Linked DNA regions of Homo sapiens. The protein of the gene in region 2 interacts with the protein of the main gene of each other region in a biochemical or structural test. Each region holds a gene or a part of one and is shown on either strand. Other genes may lie near its edges. The genes, in order: CACYBP, SKP1, MAGI3, FBXO8, ZC3HC1 and CENPE.

Region 1 (3,500 bases), on a different chromosome or scaffold from region 2:
TATTTAGTGATCATATTTTTATTCTGAGGGATAAAAAGAGCATAGGTTTTGTATTCAGAAACCTGGATTTGAATCTGAATTCTACCACTTGTTAGATGCCTAGCTTTGGGTAGAGTACTTAACTGCTTTGAGGCTCCATTTCTCAACCTAGAAAATTTCTTATATTTCAAATTTTTTCATGTTTATATGACTGGATTTTCATAATTTTACTTTCCTGACTTATGAGCCATGTGCATTTGCTGTTCTAAAGATAGTTTCAGAGGCTTACTTACGTCCCATCTTTTGTTGTCGTTGCCAGGATGGGATCAGTCAGATAAGTTTGTGAAAATCTACATTACCTTAACTGGAGTTCATCAAGTTCCCACTGAGAATGTGCAGGTGCATTTCACAGAGAGGTGAGTTCTCATTATAATGGGAAAGACAGTGAATTAACAGTCAACATTGCCTTATCTTGAGACTCTCTTCTTTGCAGTTTTTAAAATTCTTAAATTTAGAATTAATTATCCTTTACAACTACTTTGAAGAGGTGAGCGTTAACTGGCCAAATGCACACCCTGAAATAAAGCCAGCAGCTTTTTTCCCACAAGAACTATGGAGTAAGGGTACCTTTCATAGAACTAGAAAGATGATGTATTCACCATTGTGTTGCAGGTCATTTGATCTTTTGGTAAAGAATCTAAATGGGAAGAGTTACTCCATGATTGTGAACAATCTCTTGAAACCCATCTCTGTGGAAGGCAGTTCAAAAAAAGTGAGTGTGCTTTTTTTGATTGTAATATTGTGAAACCTTACCAAATTGAACCTGGCTGATTTAGAACTGAGATGAACTGGAATGAATTTGTCCTCTGTAACAGGGACCACCGCCTGTTTTGTGAATGTTTTATTGGGACATAGCCAGGCTTATTTGTTCATGTGTTGTTTGTGGATGCTTTTGTGCTACAATGGCAGAGTTAAGTGGCTACAGCAGACCATATGGCCCTAAATGAAACCTAAAATATTTACTATGCGGCCCTCGACAGAGAACATTTGCCAACTCCTTTTGTAGAATAGGCTATTGTAAGAATATTCCATTAAAATCAGGGAGGAAGTAAACGTTTGAAGGTAGTTAAGAGTGAGACTTGAGTTTTATGCCAGGTTTACAGCTTATTGTTTGTGACCTTTGGCAGCTTAATCACTCTGTGCCTCAGTTTCTGCATTTATGCGATAGTAATAATTTATTTCACAAAGTTGAAATGATACACTGAAGTGCAATACCATTATGTAAAGTGCTTAAATTAATGCTAGTGTTAGCATTGTGCATAATACTCGTATACATAAAAGGAGGTCTTAAGCACTTAGCCTCCTTGGAGTTAGAAGCAGCTATAAAAATAAGGAAACTGTCTTTTAAAAACTACTCTTTGTAATTTTTACTAAATCAGATAGTCCCTGTTTTCTGCCTAATGTGAATAAATGAAGTTTAATGCGTTAGGTATATAGACATGACATTCTGCCATCTGTTTTTATAATACATAATTACTTAACAGCTTACAGGTGATACTCAAATATAGTTGGATTCGCTGTCTTACTGCACCCTTCTGCATCCGCTAGTCCCATAGGTAGAGTACCAAAAGATCCCTAGTATTGATCATTGTTTAAAAGACCTGTACATTGCCCTTCTTTCTCACTTTCAAATGCCTCACCTTGCCCCATACTGCCTTATACGACTTGGTTTCTTGCCTATCCCCGACCCCTCTTATTATATTACTGTCTTTTTCAGTCACTAAAATCCAGCCACTCCTCCTGCTCCTCAAACACACCAAGATGATCCCATCTTGGAGCCATTCTGCATGCTCTGCCAACTGCCTTCTCCTGACCTTAGGCTTCGGCTCAGATTTGCCTCAGAGAGGCCTTCCTAATGAAGTTCCTGCCCCCACCCCCCATTAACACCCGCTTTGTCTTGATAGCACTTTCCAGGATATCAGGGTATTCAAGTTTTACTTATTTATGGTCTTTTCACACCATGAATGTTCAGATTTTGGCCTATTCATACAAGTATTACTGGCACCCAAAATAAGTCTATACATACTAGGGACTTGATCAATTGAATAGATAATTGTTTTATAAATATTCATGCTTATCTCCATGTCTTCTAAGCTGTATTTGTTTTCCTGCTTTTCTTCCAGGTCAAGACTGATACAGTTCTTATATTGTGTAGAAAGAAAGTGGAAAACACAAGGTGGGATTACCTGACCCAGGTTGAAAAGGAGTGCAAAGAAAAAGAGTGAGTCTACTTCCATTTTTTTAAAGAATTTTAGTGTATTGTTTGAGATCATGGATTTTTAATAGTTTGTCTTTATGGATAATGTATTTCTGCTTTCAACTGTCAAACTACCTGAAGAGGGCACGTCCAGCAAGTTGCTTTTTAAGGTCTTTGTAGTTAAGGGTTGGCTCTTTAGTGTGGTTCTTAACCCTAGGCGCAGTTGTGCTTCTATACAAATAACTGTGCCCATTCCCAGATACTCTGTTTCGGTAGTTTGAGAGGGGCTTAGGTACCCCTGTATGTTTTAAATTTCTCAGATGCTTCTGATGCGTAGTTTTCATTGTCACTGGTTTATAGTGAAAAAGATAAAATATTTTTATCCTTCTTAATAATGACCTTTTAAAAATGTGTATTCAATGATACTTGCGTTCTAGGTCAGTTCATCTTCTAAAGGTACTGACTAAATTAATTCAAGACCCAGGCCCAGATCTGTGTATCTCAGGCTTAAGAGGAGAGTTTTTCTAATTAAAAAATACATGAGCTTCAGGGTACATCCATGTGTAATGTTTATGATTTTCCCTCAAGTGTTTTTTTTCAAATTATGAGGAAACATGCTTTTAAAAAATGAAAACAAGTTAGAAAATCAAATTCTTATTTTACCTGTCAAAAATCACAGGAGGCCAGGTGGGGTGGCTCACGCCTGTAATCCTAGCACTTTGGGAGGCTGAGGCGGGCGGATCACCTGAGGTCAGGAGTTTGAGACCAGCCTGGCCAACATGGTGAAACTCTGTCTCTACTAAAAATACAAAAATTAGCCGGGCATGGTGGCATGTGCCTGTAATCCCAGCTACTCGGGAGGCTGAGGCAGACAGAATTGTTTGAACCTGGGAGGCGGAGGTTGCAGTGAACCGAGATGCGCCACTGCACTCCAGCCTGGGCAACAGAGCAGGACTGTCTCAAAAAAAAAAAAAAAAAAAAAATCATGGGAAATCCCTGTGCCTAAAAATAGCCCCTAACTATTTTGATGACCTCTTTCGTGCACCAAGTGTGTGCATGCTTGATACGTGTGTGTTGTTTTCATTAAGATGAATTTGTGCGTGCCGTTTTGATTGTAAATATCTTTGGGTACTCTGTCTTCCTTCTTATCCCTCTACTTCCTGCCAGTGTTAACAACCTGAATGATAGTATCTTCCGGTGCTTTCGTTTCCCCATTGTTGTATATGTTTTCTTTTTAAAGGAAGCCCTCCTATGACACTGAAAC
Region 2 (3,500 bases):
CTTCAAAATATGATATATATTCAATACAAACAGGCTTAAAAAAAAAAAAAACTTCTCGGCTGGGTGTGGTGGCCCACACCTATAATCCCAGCACTCTGGGAGGCCAAAGGAGACAGATCGCTTGAGCCCAGGAGTTCCGGACTAGCCTCGGCAACATGGTGAAACTCCATCTCTACAAAAAATACAAAAATTTGCCAAGTGTGGTGGCATGTGCTTGTACTCCCAGCTACTCGGGAGGCTGAGGTGAGAAGATCACCTGAACCCGGGAGGTAGAAGGTGCAGTGACCCATGACTGCACCACTGCACTCCAGCCCAGGCAACACAGTGAGGCCCTATCTCAAACAAACAAACCAAACAAACAAAAAAACCCCAAAAACCAAGCACTTCTCATTCTCAGAAGTGGCCCTACATCACCCAACCCTTTAACTCTGACCTTATCTACTCACTTCTTGCTCTAGCTTCCACTAAACTCCTTGCCTTTCCTAAAAAGGCAGGGCATGCTCTTGTCTTAAGGTCACTGTACTTGCTCCCAAATCCCAGAATTCTTTTCCCCCAAATATTCACGTCTTTGTTTAAAAGATTATCTTCGGCCAGGGATGGTGACTCAAGCCTGTAATCCCAGCACTTTGAGAGACTGAGGCAGGCGGATCACCTGAGGTCCGGAGTTCGAGACCAGCCTGGCCAACATGGTGAAACCCCATCTCTACTCAAAATACAAAAAATTAGCCGGGCGTGGTGGCGCGCGCCTGTAATCCCAGCTACTGAGGCTGAAGCAGGAGAACTGCTTAAAGCCCGGAGGCAGAGGCTGCAGTGAGCCAAAGTTGTGCCACTGTACTCCAGCCTGGGCAACAAGAGCAAAACTCCATCTCAAGAAAAAAAAAAAAAAAAAAAAAAAAAAAAAGATTATCTTCTCAGTAAGACATCTCCTGACCATCTTTATTTTAAAAACAGCTAACTGTTCACCTACTCACCCCTTTAAATTCCCCATTCCCTTCTTTATTCTCCATAGTTTTTCCATTTGATGTATTTCTAATGTTGCATATTCCCCACCCCTTCAGACCATAAACTCCATAAGGGCAGAGATTTTGTCTCTTTGGTTCACTGCTATACCCCCAGCTTTTGGATGGCATTTGAATGTACCAGGCATTCGACTACAAGCAAAGATCCTTTTAGAAACATTTTTCATTAGTATAAAATAGAATACGTTAATTGCAAGACATATTCAGAAGTCATAAAGAATGAGATCTAACTAGATAAAATAAAGCCTCTAAATCGTAACATGAATTAACGTAAGACAAGCAAACTGGTAGAAACTTTTAAAGAGTTCTTATAAAAAGCCTATTAGATAATACCACTGAATTGTCACTTAAAAATGGTTAAGGTGGTAAATTTTGTTATGTGTATTTTACCACAATTTTTTAAGCTCATTAGACAACAACATGGATGAACCTTGAAAACATTATGCTAAGTGAAATAAGCCAGATACAAAAGGACTAATATTGTATGATTCCATATATTATGTATCCAGGATAGCTAAATTCAGATACAGAAAGTAGAATAGTGTTTACCTAGCGTAATTTTTTTTTTTGAGGGGGGAGGGTGTACCAATTTTTTTTTTGAGGGGGGAGGGTGTACCGAAATTGGAAGTTACAGTTTAATGGGTACAGAGTTTCAGTGTGGGATGATAAAGTTCTGAAAATGCTTAGTGGTGATAGCTGCACAACACTGTGAATGTAATTAATGTCACTGAATGGTGCACGTTCAAAAAGTGAAAATGATCAATGTTATGTATATTTTATCACTATTTTTCTAAGACCATTAGGAAAACAGAGAAATGAAAACAGACAATGCAGAAAATGTAAATGGCCAGTAACACATGTAAAAACATTCACACTTTGGGAGGCCAAAGCAGGCAGATCGCCTGAGGTGAGGAGTTCAAGACCAGCCTGGCCAACATGGTGAAACCCTCATCTCTACAAAAATAAAAAAATTAGCTGGGCATGGTAGCGGGTGTCTGTAATCCCAGCTACTCGAGAGGATGAGGCGGGAGAATCACTTGAACCCAAGAGGCAGAGGTTGCAGTGAGCTGAGATCGTGCCACTGCACTCCAGCCTGGGCGACAGAGTGTCTGTCTCAAAAAAAAAAAAAAAAAAATGCCAGGCTCGGTGGCTCATGCCTGTAATCCCAGCACTTTGGGAGGCCAAGGTGGGCAGATCACAAGGTCAGGAATTCAAGACCAGCCTGACCAACATGGTGAAACCCCATCTCTACTAAAAAATACAAAAATTAGCCAGGCGTGGTGGCGAGTGCCTGTAATCCCAGCTACTTGGGAGGCTGAGGCAGGAGAATTGCTTGAACCTGGAAAGTGGAGGCTGCAGTGAGCCGAGATTGTGCCACTGCTCTCCAGCCTGGGCAACAGAGTGAGATCAAAAAAACAAACAAACACAAAAAAATTCAGGTTAGCCAGGCATGGTGGCTCCACCTGTAATCCCAGCACTTTGGGAGGCCAAGGCAGGGAGATCGTCTGAGGTCAGGAGTTGGAGACCAGCCTGGCCAACATGGTGAAAACCTGTCTAATATAAAAATTAGCCAGTGTGGTGGTGGGCATCTGTAATCCTAGCTATTCGGGAGGCTGAGGCAGGGAAAATTACTTGAACCCGGAAGGCAGAGGCTGCAGTGAGCTGAGATCACACCACTGCACTCCAGCCTGGGCAACAGGGCGAGGCTCCATCTCAAAAAAAAAAAAGATGCTATATATTAACTAACATAGACATATCACCTTTCATTTTGTTATATGGAAAAAAAAAAACATAGAAATGTATAGTTTGCTACCTTAAGAATGGGGGAGAATGCTGGGCGCGGTGGCTCACACCTGTGATCCCAGCACTTTGCGAGGCTGAGGTGGGCAGATCATGAGGTCAAGAGATCAAAACCATCCTGGCCAACATGGTGAAACCCTGTCTCTACTAAAAATACAAAAATTAGCTGGGCATGGTGGCGTGTGCCTGTAGTCCCAGCTACTCAGGAGGCTGAGGCAGGAGAATCACCTGAACCCAGGAGGCAGAGGTTGCAGTGAGCCGAGATCATACCACTACCCTCCAACCTGGCGACAGAGCAAGACTCTGGTCTCAAAAAAAAAAAAAAAAAAAAAAAAAAGAATGTGGGAAAAAAATATACTTACTTGTTAATACCTGTATTACAAAATACTGAAAGGATAAATTGCTACCTGAAAGGGGACTGGAATAGATAAGGACAGAAATGGGAACAAAGTGTTACATATTCCTTTGACTTTAGCCGTTTCAAAATTATAAATCTAAGAAAGACAGTCACGATTCAATTCCACCATGCTCTAGAAGTGGTATCTTTACAGAAGACTATTTAACAGTATCTATCAAAATTTAGGTATATAAGCCAACCTGCGATCCAGATATTCTACATGTAGATCATCCTTCCTAGGGAAGTGTTTGCATAGGTAGACACAGTACAGATGCCCAATAAAT
Region 3 (3,500 bases), on a different chromosome or scaffold from region 2:
TTTCTAAACAGTCTTCATACAGTTTTGTTTAGAGCTCAAAACGAGGATTTATAGTTGAATTGTGTGTGTGTGTTACACTCTTGTGCAAATTTTCCATATTAAAAAGTTCTGAGATTATAGTTTATTGAGTTACTCTATAATATCCTACTAAATACTGAACTTTGTTTTGTTTTAATCCTTTTAAAATAAATCATAGTATTTATATTTTCTGATTTTCCTCAGCACCAAACACCAAAGATTTGGATGTTTTTCTTCGAAAACAAGAGTCAGGGTTTGGCTTCAGGGTGCTAGGAGGAGATGGACCTGACCAGTCTGTAAGTGTCACTTCTTTGGAACATGGCTGTTTCCTGTTCAAACGTTTTGAGTGGTGATTTGGTGGATTATGGTGTGTTTTAAGTTTTTTTTTCTCTGACAGTTTCATTAATATGAAGAATAACTGCATTTCCATTATTATCATAGTCCCTCAGTTATTGTGGTGTAGCTGAGGCTAAAAACTGTGGGTAAAAACTGAATATGTCAGCTGCAAATTAGACAGTGATTAATTTATTTACTTCTCTGTGTGAATAACTACATAAAGCTTATTTTAAGTTTATATTTTCCTTTGCCCTCATTAAACAGAGTCTAAGACATTTTCCTTCTCTAAGAAGCCTATAATCCCATGTCCTCTTTCCCACTATTACTCTATCTTCTGGATGCTCCATAAATGGTTGGCATGAGCCTGTGCATATTGTTTCACCTCGTCTTATTAATAGGTTGGCATTTTCATGCTCAGTACTTTGCATGTCATTTCATCTGTTACCTTTGAAACTAGAGGAATATAAAATAATTAATATTTTTGTCCAGAGGCATAAGGGTTATATTTGCAAAGCATTTGAAGTCTAGGATTTTGTTTACACATGATTCTCACATAAACTTGTTTTAGAGAACAAATGTAGTGGGTTTTGTTTCTAAGTTTTGCTCTTGGTTTGAATAACAAAGAAGTAATGTGTTCTGTAGCATTTTTAAGAACATATTTGCATTTTATTTTATATAATATCAATATATTATATATCAAAAAATATGGTTGGAAGTTAGGTGAAGAACAATAATCTTTAAAAATTACAGGCTTCTTATTTCTGAATAGAACATTTGATTTATGTAGTATAAATTTGTTCTAATTGGTCATATTGGTTACAGTTACAACAGTCATTGGAGACACATAAAGCTTAAGGCAGGTTGCCCTATGTAGAACAAATACTAGATACTTTAATTGTTCTTGGTATTTGTATTTTTGTTTTATTGCTTCCTATTTTGTTGATACTCATAATGTTCACTTAGACATTTTAAGAATTTGTCTCAAACAACTTAGAAGAAACCTTTCTTTTCTCTTAAATGTCAGATTTTAGCAGCTCTGAAACTAGCCTAAACATTCAGGATTGCCTAATTACAGGATTCTAATGCTGGTGAGCAAAATGAACCAGATTTGTTCACCTAGATGCAAGTGAAGCTTCAGGCCACTCTGTTCCCGCTGAGATTTAGAAACAAGAAATGTCTCTGTGCTGTGTATATTGAACTTGTACCGTTAGTCATATGTGATGGGAGTACTGTTGAGAATGATCCCAGTTGCTGTGAACAGTATGTAGAAAATCTTGCCTGATGACATTGAACAGACTTTTAATAGCTACTCTGCAGATTTATATTTTCTGAGTTTAGTGTTTTGTTTCATTGTAATGATAGGGATAATGGTTGTGCTTTTTGAGTTATCGAACAACTTTGTATTTTCTATTTTCTTTGTACACAGCCCTGAGGATCTATAAGGGATTACATAATACAATGTGGTTATTTGAAGTGCCATTTTGGAGAATGGGCACTTTCTCAGATAATACCTTTCTAAAATATAACTGTTTTCATAGTTGAACTGCAAAAATCTGTTGGTTTGCACAATGCTAAGTTAGGAATTCCTTAACTCTTCAGCTAAACTTTACACTGTGGACCAAACTGTACTTTGTTATCTTATCAGATATATATTGGGGCTATTATTCCCCTGGGAGCAGCTGAGAAAGATGGTCGGCTCCGCGCAGCTGATGAACTAATGTGCATTGATGGAATTCCTGTTAAAGGGAAATCACACAAACAAGTCTTGGACCTCATGACAACTGCTGCTCGAAATGGCCATGTGTTACTAACTGTCAGACGGAAGATCTTCTATGGAGGTGTGTGAACTTGTTCCTGCTCTGAAAAGTTAAAAAAGAAACAAAGATACTAGTCTACTTCCTGTGTAGTTTTGCAGGTTATTTTATTACATTCAGTAGTATCTAAGATAACCCATTTGGTGTGATCCAGGGCCTCACTGTGGAAGGCTATGCAAACACAAAAGGATTCAGAAATAATACTACTATAAAAAAATAAATTTTGGGCTTCTATATTAAGATTATTTTCATATATTGATGCATTTTGCAAATGTATTATAGGTGGGAGTATTGATTTAAATCCGGTTTTGTTTTGTTTTGTTGAGTTGAGGTAGAGTCTCACTCTGTCACCCAGGCTAGAGTGCAGTGGTATGAGCTCAGCTCACTGCAACCTCCACCTCTTGGGTTCAAGCGATTCTCCTGCCTCAGCCTCCTGAGTAGCTGGGATTACAGGCACACACCACCACACGGCTAATTTTTGTATTTTTAGTAGAGACGGGGTTTCACCACATTGGCCAGGCTGGTCTCGAACTCTTGACCTCAAGTGATCCACCTGTCTCAGACTCCCAAAGTGCTGGAATTACAGGCGTGAGCCACTGTGCCCAGCCTAAATTTGTTTTGTTTTTTTTTAAATAACAAATACAAAATTATTTAGTCATACCAAGATATCCCACTAGCTGAATATACAAAGATTTTTGGATCCCAGTGAAATCTGAGCTACTAAAGGAAAGTAGGATGTTTCTACTTGAGAAGTTTTAGTATAATTTAACATTTATTGAGTGCTTACTATGTCCTAGATGCATGGATTATTTTATTTAATCTTCACAACACTATGAGGTCATTATCTAGTTCTATGATTACTCAGAGAAAGGTTGAGAAACAAATAACTGGTAAGAGGTAGGGCCTGGATTAAAAGTTGCAGTTTAATTCAGAGATCAGGGTTTAAACCATAGCATTAGGATATGAATATCTCTTATAGTTTCTCGCCAGTAGCTTTATGAATAATTAAATAGAAATTCTTATAAGTGAATTCTTTCCACTTTAAAATTAAAAAAATACAACTCTGTAGCACAAGAATATAAGCCTCATGAAGGTATGAATTTTTATTTGTGTAGTTATCTGCTGTAAGCTCGGCACCTAAAAGAGTGCCTGTCTGGTACAAAGTGGACATTAATAAATGTTGTTAATTGGATGAATATTTACATCACTCTTAAAAATGAGGCACTGTATTTTTTATTGCAACATTCAAAGTAAAGGCCTGCCTCCTTTGGTAAATACCAGGCATTTAGAATGCATATAGATTGTAATGCAGTACTGCCTCAATTTGGTTGT
Region 4 (3,500 bases), on a different chromosome or scaffold from region 2:
CTGGATACAAATATTCAAGTTCTTCACTAACCTCATCTGGGTTGGCATTAAAGGTGAGGCTGCCTTCATCCAGCTGCATATACAATTTTCTAAAAGAAAATCCTAAAGGTGGGTTCTTATTGTATATGGAACAGTGACCCCAAGTGGATTTGCACAACCTATAAAATCAGAGAAAATGAGACAAGAAAACATTACTACATTTAATTTCCTAAGTTAAATATGCATATACATGCAAAAATAGTAACATGAAATAAGATTGAATTTTATAGTTCTAAAGTTTAAAATTTTTAAGTTTGTACTTGTTTTCTATTTGTTTACTAGAGTATGACAGATGCTTTAAATTTAGCAATTTTGACAGCATCTAATAAATGTGAGTTATAGAGATTAATAATATTCATGAGTACTATCTGAAGTTAAACATAAACTATTCCTAATAATAGTAATAATAGCTAACATTTACTGAATACTTACTAGATGTCAGACCCTATTTCAAGTATTTTAATTGGATTAGCCTGCCTAATCTTCACAACAATCCTATGACGTTGGTGATACAGATAAGAAACACAGACAAAACAGTTGCCCAAGATCATACGGCTAATATGTACAGATGCAGGATTTCAACCCAATGAGTAATCCACAGCTTGCAATTATTAACCAAGAATCTAAATAGGGTTTATTAACTAACCTATGTGCTCTATTGTGAAATAAAACTAAATGGGAGGAAAAGAATGCTGGGCAGGGAAACAGCTTTTGTTTTTCAAATAATACACGTTACAACAGACAAATTAAATACAGAAATTGTTTGTAATGCCACAACTTGAATACATTCATCAAGCTGTGATGTTCAACATAGCTGTTTTTAAGATACTGCTTCAAAAACACTAGTTCTTTATTATCAGAGTGATACATGATTGTTTAGAAATTCTATAAAACCGAAAATACTAACAGTTCATATCTCAAAACACACTGCAGATTGGGATACTTTCTAACTCTTCACAGAGGCAATAGCTACTGGTTATTTGAAAGTTAATGTTTTATCTTATTATAATGCCTGGAAATTCTGGATATCCACCAAAAAGCCTTAAATATAAATGCATTATTCTAGAGAAACAGAGAATACTGAAATTATATTCTGATACAATTGTGATGAGTCTTTGTCTCAAAATTATCTGATTTGTTGTGTATTCAAAAACACCTGCTACTTGTTGAGACAAATGAAACTGTTTACTTTCTTATATTCATTATTAATTTCTGCCTCAGATTTCCTTCTTTTAATAAACACACAAAGTGCAGAGCAACAAGAAAAAGTTACTGTCTGAGCATATAACATCAAAAATTGTGAGGACAAGGGGGTAAAATATCTAATTTAACATGAGACTACCCTCTTAGTAGTTGATTTATACTGCTGCATTATTTTTACCCACCAAATGAAATCACTGACTCAAAACTGTAAGTATAAAAAATTGTTTAGAATATTATCAATATTTTTTCAGTCTTATTAATCTAGTCCCAATAAAACCCAAAACTAGAGTTTTATTACTAAGCTTTGTGAAAACCAGAGAACTTCCCAACATCAATGAGTATTCAATACATCCAAAGTTGAAATTAAAACTAAGCCAGCCTTTAATTTCAAATAGAAGCAATTTATTATTAAGGAAAAAATCCAAGTATTATAAAAATAGGCATAATTATGGCAAATATTTCTTTCACAAATGAAAAATTCAGATTTAAACCCCAAATGAAGAATACATTCTGGTTGACTTCAGGTAAGGCTAGAAATTAAACTTTTAAAAAAAGTTCAAACAAACAGAAATTAAGTTAGTAAGGAATACTAAAATGTAGAAAAGAGATTAGAAAGAATGAGCCAGTTTAAAAGTACTTTCATTTCCTCTTCTATTCATGAGTAAAAAATTAATAACATTTATTTTAAAGACTCCTCATTAACAGAATTTCCTCTCACGTAGTACTTTCACTATGTCAAACAAATGAGTAAAAGAATAACAAGATATGATATTGATGATTTTTATCTATTTAGAGGTTGAGAAATGACCTATATAACTTGTACTAGAACTGTGTGACATCAGAAAGCCTAATTTAGGAATGTCATTACTGAAAATATATTTTGACTAAAGTTTGTAATTTATTAAGTCTCTCAATTAGATTTCTAGTTTGAAATTATAGGAAGTCTTAAAAAGATATTTGTTTTTAGTTATAGTCTATATTTTTATAAAGACCTATTTCAAGATAATAAGACAAATAAACTTTGGTAAAGGATGCTAGAAGGTCTGAGATCCAATGATTCCATGTTTGGTAATATTTTTAGGCCAAAAAATCATGTACCTATACTTTTTGTTAAAGTATATGATGCTATTTAAGGAGTAACTTAGGTTCAATAAAACAGATTCTATTCCAGCAAATGTTCTTAGATTTGTGGTTTTAATTCAGACTAGTACAATGTGGAAATTTATGTAATCTAAGTTCAGCAAGTAAATAAAAACAACTATTTGTCCCCTTGCTTTCTAATATTTGCCTACTTCATTGAAATGCTGGTTAGAAAAAAAAAGTAGATAAAATTTTCACCAGTTAAATTTTATTCTAACAAGCACCTTTGAAGAAATATAGAATTGAGTAAAAATGTAAGGCTCTATATGAAGAAAATTAAAAACAGTAACATTTGAGGACTATTCATTGATTTCGAAGTCTGCCTATTATTCAGATGGCAGGTATCCTATGGGAAGCACAAACTACACAGCATGTGAACACTCCAACTTTTAAATTAGAAATTCTCACTCCACAACTTTGCGGTATTTTCAGAATAAAGTGAGAGTTTCTGACTTATAATCAACTGACAGAGCCTGATTGGTAACCTCTCTTCTAACTGTAAAGTTATTATTCTATTTTCTATTGTCCTCCTTTTCACAAGATCAAATTTGACTGTGATGCTAACTGTATATTTTTCCAGGTTTTAATAAAGAGCATCTCAAAGTACAAGCCCAAGTTTAAAGAAAATATTTTGTAATATACATTATAAAAAGAACATTGAAGCATGATTATGTTTAGAGATACCTGAATTCAACTTTGGTGGGTTTAACTTACCCTTGCCAGAGAAGTTCATCATTCGCAAGGTCCTGCCAAACACATGAAGCCAAGCAAAGGTCAGTTGCATTCAGGTAGGACAAGATGGTAAAGCTTAGCTCAGGAGGCAACATTTCCAAATTAATGAATCCTTCCTGTTCTTTCGATTTCCTTGCCTTCAAAAGATGATATATGTCAATGCCTCCTTGGACTTGTTTACGATGATTGGTGTTAGAAATGTTGCTCGCAGCCATTCTCCTGCTCTGCTCTCTGGTGAGGTAGCCTTGCTCACTGTAGCCTTCTTGTTGCAGCTGCTGGTTTCTGACCACTCTCCACAACCCTTGACCCATCTGCAAGCCTGGGAAAAAGCCAGAATGTAATAAGGGTGACATTTAAAAAGTAACCCATTTTTCCCAGTGGTATAA
Region 5 (3,500 bases), on a different chromosome or scaffold from region 2:
TGAGCCAAGATCGCCTCACTGCTCTCCAGCCTTGGCAACAAAGCGAGACTCTGTCTCAAAAAAAAAAAGAAAAAAGATTAAAGAAAGAAGTATTTCTGACCATAATCATTAATATCATTCGTGTACTTCCATTATCTCCCCTTTCCTTCAGGCTGAAAAGAGCCCTGGTCCCATTGTCTCTCGAACTCGGAGCTGGGACTCTTCCAGTCCTGTTGACCGTCCTGAGCCAGAGGCTGCTAGCCCCACCACCAGAACTCGCCCAGTGACCCGAAGCATGGGAACAGGAGACACCCCTGGCCTGGAGGTACCATCTAGCCCTCTGCGGAAAGCCAAGCGAGCTCGCCTCTGCTCCTCCAGCAGTTCGGTGAGTCCACCTCGCATGTAGCAGTGGCTGAGCATAAACAGCATATTGGGCCCTCCCTAGGCAGCATGGAGAAGCAGGCAGGAGCCCTTCCGTGGTCCAATGCAAAAAGTAGACCATGTGAATAAATTTAAAGTTGGATGACCAAAGGGAAAAAATGTCAGTCATGTTTTTTGCTCCTTTTTGTTCCTTTGGAGTGGATTCTGGAGAAATAATAGATATTTCAGGCAAATGGAACAACGGTGTGATACAGGGACAAACCTGATCTGGCAGCGGTCCCCAACCTTTTTGGCACCAGGGACCGTTTTCATGGAAGACCATTTTTCCACGGACCACGGTTGGGAGGATGGTTTCGGGATGATACGAGCACATTACATGTATTGTGTACTTTATTTCTATTATTATTATATTGTAATATATAATGAAATAATTGTACAACTCACCATAATATAGAGTCAGTGGGAACCTGCAGCTTGTTTTCCTGCAACTAGATGATCTCATCTGGGGGTGACGGGAAACAGTGACAGATCATGAGGTGTCAGACTCTCATAAGGAGCCCGAAGTCTAGATCCCTCTCATGTGCAGTTCACAGTAGGGTTCCTGCTCCTATAAGAATCTAATGCCACTGCTGATCTGACAGGAGGCAGAGCTCAGGTGGTAATGCAAACAATGGGGAGCAGCTGTAAATTCAGATGAAGCTTTGCTTGCCCGCCTGCTGTTCACCTCCTACTGTGCGACCTGGTACCCATCCATGGCCTGGGGGTTGGGTATCCCTTATCCCTTGTGATAAGGTATAGTTTGTTTAACACAAAAGGAGTGAAAAAATAAAGAAAATGAGAGGAAAATGTGTAGGCAAAGTTTGAAGGAGAGCATAAACACTCGAAGTATGGGTAGTTGTGAGATTCTGGACTTGATAACTAACAGCAGTGCCTCCCTGAACTTACATAGCATCTACCTATGAATGCTATTTCTTTTTCTCCTTCCTCAGGACACATCTTCCCGAAGCTTCTTTGATCCCACCTCTCAGCATAGAGACTGGTGCCCTTGGGTGAATATCACACTTGGCAAAGAAAGCAGGGAGAATGGTGGAACTGAACCAGATGCCAGCGCCCCAGCAGAGCCAGGCTGGAAAGCAGTGCTGACCATCCTCTTGGCGCACAAACAGTCTAGCCAGCCAGCTGAAACGGACTCCATGGTGAGATACGCCACTGCCTTGTGTGTGGGCAGCACTTGCTGTTTATGGGAGGTGGAGCAGAGGCTGGGCCTATAATTAGCACCCCGCCTGCCTTCAGCTTTCATACGTCAAGTTATTTGGGTTTTTTTGTTTGTTTGTTTGTTTTTTGAGATGGAGTCTCGTTCTTGTTGCCTAGGCTGGAGTCCAATGGCACGATCTCAGCTCACTGCAACCTCCGCCTCCTGGGTCAAGCGATTCTCCTGCCTTAGCTTCCCAAGTAGCTAGGATTACAGGCGCCCACCACCACACCCGGCTAATTTTGTATTTTTAATAGACAGGGTTTCACCATGTTGGCCAGGCTGGTCTCGAACTCCTGACCTCAGGTGATCCCCCCGCCTCGGCCTCCCAAAGTGCTGGGATTACAGGCGTGAGCCACCGTGCCCGGCTTATACGTCAAGTTAGACTCATTCTGCTTTCGTCCTAGGGATTAGGCATAGAACCGGTTCGTCTTTCTGTAGTTTAGCATATGGCATTCCGTCAAGTTCTGATAAATTCTTTTGTTCTCCTAAATAAAGTGACTCCAAGTAGAAAAGGAGTACGGAAACAGAAATAGATGAACAGGCAGCTGCTCCGGCCTCATGTTGCAGACAGCTGCTTTTTCTTTCATTTGCTGTCACTTGCACTTGGAGCCTGGCCAGTTAACTTAGCTGTTTGGAGCACTGGGCTCTGACACCAAGATGATGGCCTCATTCCGCACGCTGGGCACATTACTTTACTCTGTTCCACAGCCCAGACTGTGACTCTGCTAGCCATTGCAGCCATAACTGCTGTGGGTTACAAATGTGGGTGACAACTGAGAAGAAAAGTCAAGTGTTTGCTCTGTGTAAAGATTGGAAGTGATAGGCTGGGTAATATGGAACCATGAAAACTGGGTTCTCTCCTTCGCTGGCTCACTCCCAAATTTTCCTTGTAGCTGGTAACAATTTCTGATCGTAGTCTATAACTTTCAAGGACAAAGTAAAATAATACTTGTCAGCAGATATTTATGAGCAGCACTCCTAGATTCATGGTTTTCTAGGGTTACAGGATTCCACTGGAGGGAACTATAGTAATGCTAAAAGTCCAAAATTGCATGGCTGGGTGTGGTGGCTCACGCCTGTAATCCTAGCACTTTGGGAGGCCAAGGCGAATGGATCACCTGAGGTCAAGAGTTTGAGACAACCTAGCCAACATGGTGAAACCTCGTCTCTACTCAAAATACAAAAAAAAAAAAAATTTGCCATGTGTGGTGGCAGGCGCCTGTAATCCCAGCTATTGGGGAGGCTGAGGCTGGAGAATCACTTGAACCCAGGAGGCGGAGGTTGCAGTGAGCCGAGGTTGCGCTCCAGCCTGGGCTTCAGAGAGAGACGCTGTCTCAAAAAAAAATAAAATAAAAATAAATGTATATTAGTACCCTTAGTAAATATGCAGGTGAAGGTTTTCCAAGTTTTCACAGAAAAAAAAATCCGCATTTCTCTGCCTAGATCTTCAGGAACTAGTACATTGGCAGTTTTCAGTAAGACTCCTCTCTGTCACTGCCATACGAAAAAGAAAGCCTATGGGTTTTGTTTTTGTTTTGTAGTGGGAAAAGTTGGCCTCATAATTGGCCCTGGATTCCAGGACTTTTTTTTTCGGTAGTGTGTCTTAACCTTCTGACAGCTGCTGTGACGAAGCTAGAAAGCTTAATGAGACTGTGTGGTAAAGGATCCTGATGTTCGAAAAAAAAAAGTATATACCGAGGCCAGGCACAGTGGCTCATGCCTGTGATCCCAGCACTTTGGGACGCTGACGCAGGGGAATCACCTGAGGTCAGGAGTTCGAGACCAGCGTGGCCAACATGGCAAAACCCCATCTCTACTGAAAATACAAAAATTAGCCAGGACTGTTGGTGTGCACCTGTAATCCCAGTACTCCAGAGGCTGAGGC
Region 6 (3,500 bases), on a different chromosome or scaffold from region 2:
TAGTCATACCAGAGGAACTTAATTTTTATATTTATCTTCCCTTTTTTCCTTTTAACTTCACCAATAAGAGCCCAACTCTAGAACTCCAGCATGTATAGGTAGAGAAATGGGAATATTTGCTCTCTTACAAATCTAATCCTTCAAATATTTCTCCATTTAGAATAATGCTATCTCTTGATTAAAAAAAACTTTAAAATGTTATATTAAGGGAAATAGACTGCTTTAACACAGTTTATAAAAATAAAGAATTAAATGTTATTTTCTGAAAATATTTTTGCTTCTTTTAAAACTGTTTTCTATTGTGTAAAAATTAGAGTAACCATTTCCCACTGTCCTTTACTGTTCATAGGAATTTCCAGAGAAAGAAATAAAAACATTGTAATTCTTTTCAAAAAAGCTTAATTCTTATTAATAGTTACTACACAAAGGAAGACTCTGAACTCACTCTAGCTATCATTTCCCTTAAGGTTGCTATGAATTGGTCCCTTTCCATTTTGAGAGATTCTTTTATCCTCCTTAGCTCATCTCTTTCTTTAGCTACAATTCTTATTTCTTCAAGGCTTTCATGAAGTTTCTTAGTCAACTGGAAGTTATCCATTCTCACACTTTGCATAGATAAGTTTTGGGCCTCAAATTGCTTCTTCAACTGTTCCATTTCATTAATTTTTTTATGACTCATATTGACATCTTCTTTCACTCTAAGCAGTTGAAGTTCTTTTTTCTGAAGTTCTTGGATCTTGAGATAATTGTAAAACAAGTTAGAATGTAAGCAGTTTCTTCAAGGAAGGCAAATAGTGTCTACTTGTGTTCTATATGCACATATCTATCTACATATCTGTATCTATATCTTTTTAATTCCACAAATAATTTTGGGCACAGTTACTTCCAAAAGAAGAACAAAACAACACATACCTTTTTCTGTAATTCATCTTTTGATTTATCTAAATCCTTTTGAATGTCTGAAATTTGAATTGTCTTTTCTGAAATTTTTTCTCTAAGTTTATCAACAGTTTCTTTGTGTTCTTTTGATAGCATACGAGCAGTTTTTAGTTCCTGTTGTATTTCCAGATCCTTTATGGTTAGAAGAAATCAAGAAATGTAATGATATAAAGGCACGTTACCTTTACTTAATGATTGAGTTTAAACAAAATCTTAAAAATTATACACTCACAGTTAAAAACAACCATTATACAACCTCCTAAATTAGAAGAGTAAAGTAAAATTTTCTGCTGGTAGCCTCACCCATAGCCTTCTCCTTTCATACCACTTGGACATCTTTCTAAATCAATATCACAAAAAGAATACCCCATTCTTATGCTTAGTTTTCCATTATACAGATAGTGCCTTATTATTGGTGGACACTTAGATTATTTCTAGGTTTTAGTCACCAGACACAACGCTGCAGTGAACACTGTATTTTTGCCCAAATATGTGAATATAATGGTAGGGTAAAGAGAGAACACAACTCACTCTAGCTTTGGTTTCTTGCAGGCTTTCCTTGAGTTGGTCTCTCTCCAGTTTGAGTGTCTCCTCTACTCTTCTTAGATTATCTCTTTCTTTCATTACAGATTTCATTTCTTCAAGGTTTTCATGAAGTTTCTGAGCCAAATTTAAATTCTCTATTTCTAATTTACTCAGAGTTAAGCTTTGGTCTTTTATTTGTTTCTTTAGTTGCTCCATTTCAGACACTTTTTTCTGTGTCTCATTGACATCTTTTTTTAACGTAATAAGTTGATGTTCATTTGCCTTAAGTTCTTGAATCTTAAGATAATCATAAAATAATATGTTAGGTGGCTTTTTAGGGACAGATAAATAATAGTTTCTAAATTGATTAAGACAACTGTCTACCCATGTTACTCTCACTGATATCCTGCACAATTCCACACAGAATTTTACTTTCTTTTGAGGTATAATATATATAAAGCATGCTCATCTTCAATGTATAACTTAATTATTCTTGACACAGGTGTAAATCTATGAAACTACAACCCAGATTAAAACAGAGAATATTTCTAGCACTTCATAAAGTTTCTGTGTGCTCCTTCCTAGAGACAGCCACTATTCTGACCTTTATCATCCTGGTTCAGTTTTGCCTGCTTTTGAACCTATATATCACAATGTATGTATCCATTTTCCTGCTGATAGACATTTGAGTTTTCAGTTTTTTGTTATTTTGAATAAGGCTGCTATAAACATTCTTGTGTCTTTTTATAGAAGTATGTACGTACTCTTTTCTCTTATGTACATACCCAAGAAGTGGAAATGTTGGGCCTCAGGCAGGCTACATCCAGCATTAGTAAATACTGCCAAGGTGTTTTCCAGTGTGGTTGAACCATTTTATATCCCCAACAATTTTAGGCACAAACAAATTAGATATCCAATCAAACAATCCCCCCATAAAAATACCTTTTCTTGTAATTTAGCATTTGAATTTTCTAAATCTTTTTGCATATTTGATAGTTTATCTGTCTTCTCAGAAACAATTCCTCTGAGTTTGTCAATAGTTTCCTGCTGCTCTTTCAGATGCATGTGAGCAATTCTTAGTTCCTCTTGTATTTTCAGATCCTTTACCATTAGAGAAATTTTAAAAACAGTGACATATCTTAATATTAGTTTTTAAAAAATAAAGTGATATATTTTCTTAGTAAAAATAATAACACTGTTACTCTATATCTTTGCTGTTGTTTTTAAGGTACAGGCTTTCTCTTCCCTGTCCTCCTCTCTTCACACTCTACTTCTGCTTTCCAGAGGCAAACACATTACACATATATTACTTTTTTTAAGTGTTGCATAGTATTTCGATATATTGTTCATATTTACTGTTTCCTTCTGAGGAACATTTAGATTGTTTCAGATTTTTAATTAAAATCACTACAATAAATAACCTGTGGCATATGTATACGTTGTGTTTGTATATACACACACACTCCTTTAACAGTATATATGTAGGCTAAAGTCCGTAAGGAAAATGATAATTGCAGACTTGAACTTTTCAAGAACAGTACCAAATTATCTGCTTAAAAGGCTGTATCATTTCATTCTTGCCAACAGTAGTACTTGGTTCAAAGAAGGGTTCATTGCTGTAAGAACACAATACATTGAATTGCCAGGGAGAGGAATGAGCTTACTTTAGCTTCTATTTCTCTAAGGCCTTCCCTAAGTTGGTCTTGCTCCATTTTAAAGATTTCCTCTACTCCTCTTAGGCCATCATTTTCCTTAGTAACAAATCTTACATCCTGAAGGTTTTCATGAAGCTTCTGAGTCAATCTTAATTTCTGCGTTTCTACACTTTCCAGAGTTACATTCCAGGCCTCTAACTGCTTCTTTAACTGACCTGTTTGATACATAGTTTCCCTAAGATCATTTTTTACTTTAAGAAGTTGAGGCTGGGCCTGGCGGCTCATGCCTGTAATCCCAGCACTTTGGGAGGCCGAGGCGGGTGGATCATGAGGTCAGGAGATCGAGACCACCCTGGTCAACACGGTGAAACCTCCTCTCTA

What was found.
Region 1: the proteins of SKP1 (region 2) and CACYBP form a complex in vitro, tested with the Homo sapiens proteins (one study listed by BioGRID).
Region 3: the proteins of SKP1 (region 2) and MAGI3 form a complex in vitro, tested with the Homo sapiens proteins (one study listed by BioGRID).
Region 4: the proteins of SKP1 (region 2) and FBXO8 form a complex in vitro, tested with the Homo sapiens proteins (one study listed by BioGRID).
Region 5: the proteins of SKP1 (region 2) and ZC3HC1 form a complex in vitro, tested with the Homo sapiens proteins (one study listed by BioGRID).
Region 6: the proteins of SKP1 (region 2) and CENPE form a complex in vitro, tested with the Homo sapiens proteins (one study listed by BioGRID).

Annotation. Positions count from the first base shown.
Region 1 is NC_000001.11:175,006,447-175,009,946, forward strand, and holds part of CACYBP (calcyclin-binding protein), read left to right. Parts: intron 1-298; coding exon 299-395; intron 396-651; coding exon 652-751; intron 752-2,162; coding exon 2,163-2,260; intron 2,261-3,476; coding exon 3,477-3,500. UniProt on the Homo sapiens protein: May be involved in calcium-dependent ubiquitination and subsequent proteasomal degradation of target proteins. Probably serves as a molecular bridge in ubiquitin E3 complexes. Participates in the ubiquitin-mediated degradation of beta-catenin (CTNNB1).
Region 2 is NC_000005.10:134,163,451-134,166,950, forward strand, and holds part of SKP1 (S-phase kinase-associated protein 1), read right to left. Parts: intron 1-3,500. UniProt on the Homo sapiens protein: Essential component of the SCF (SKP1-CUL1-F-box protein) ubiquitin ligase complex, which mediates the ubiquitination of proteins involved in cell cycle progression, signal transduction and transcription.
Region 3 is NC_000001.11:113,649,015-113,652,514, forward strand, and holds part of MAGI3 (membrane-associated guanylate kinase, WW and PDZ domain-containing protein 3), read left to right. Parts: intron 1-222; coding exon 223-314; intron 315-1,999; coding exon 2,000-2,192; intron 2,193-3,500.
Region 4 is NC_000004.12:174,259,668-174,263,167, forward strand, and holds part of FBXO8 (F-box only protein 8), read right to left. Parts: intron 3,434-3,500; 5' UTR 3,426-3,433; coding exon 3,097-3,425; intron 159-3,096; coding exon 32-158; intron 1-31. UniProt on the Homo sapiens protein: May promote guanine-nucleotide exchange on an ARF. Promotes the activation of ARF through replacement of GDP with GTP.
Region 5 is NC_000007.14:130,020,375-130,023,874, reverse strand, and holds part of ZC3HC1 (zinc finger C3HC-type protein 1), read left to right. Parts: intron 1-151; coding exon 152-364; intron 365-1,349; coding exon 1,350-1,556; intron 1,557-3,500. UniProt on the Homo sapiens protein: Required for proper positioning of a substantial amount of TPR at the nuclear basket (NB) through interaction with TPR.
Region 6 is NC_000004.12:103,139,344-103,142,843, forward strand, and holds part of CENPE (centromere-associated protein E isoform 1 precursor), read right to left. Parts: intron 2,566-3,500; coding exon 2,407-2,565; intron 1,762-2,406; coding exon 1,471-1,761; intron 1,072-1,470; coding exon 913-1,071; intron 737-912; coding exon 446-736; intron 1-445. UniProt on the Homo sapiens protein: Microtubule plus-end-directed kinetochore motor which plays an important role in chromosome congression, microtubule-kinetochore conjugation and spindle assembly checkpoint activation.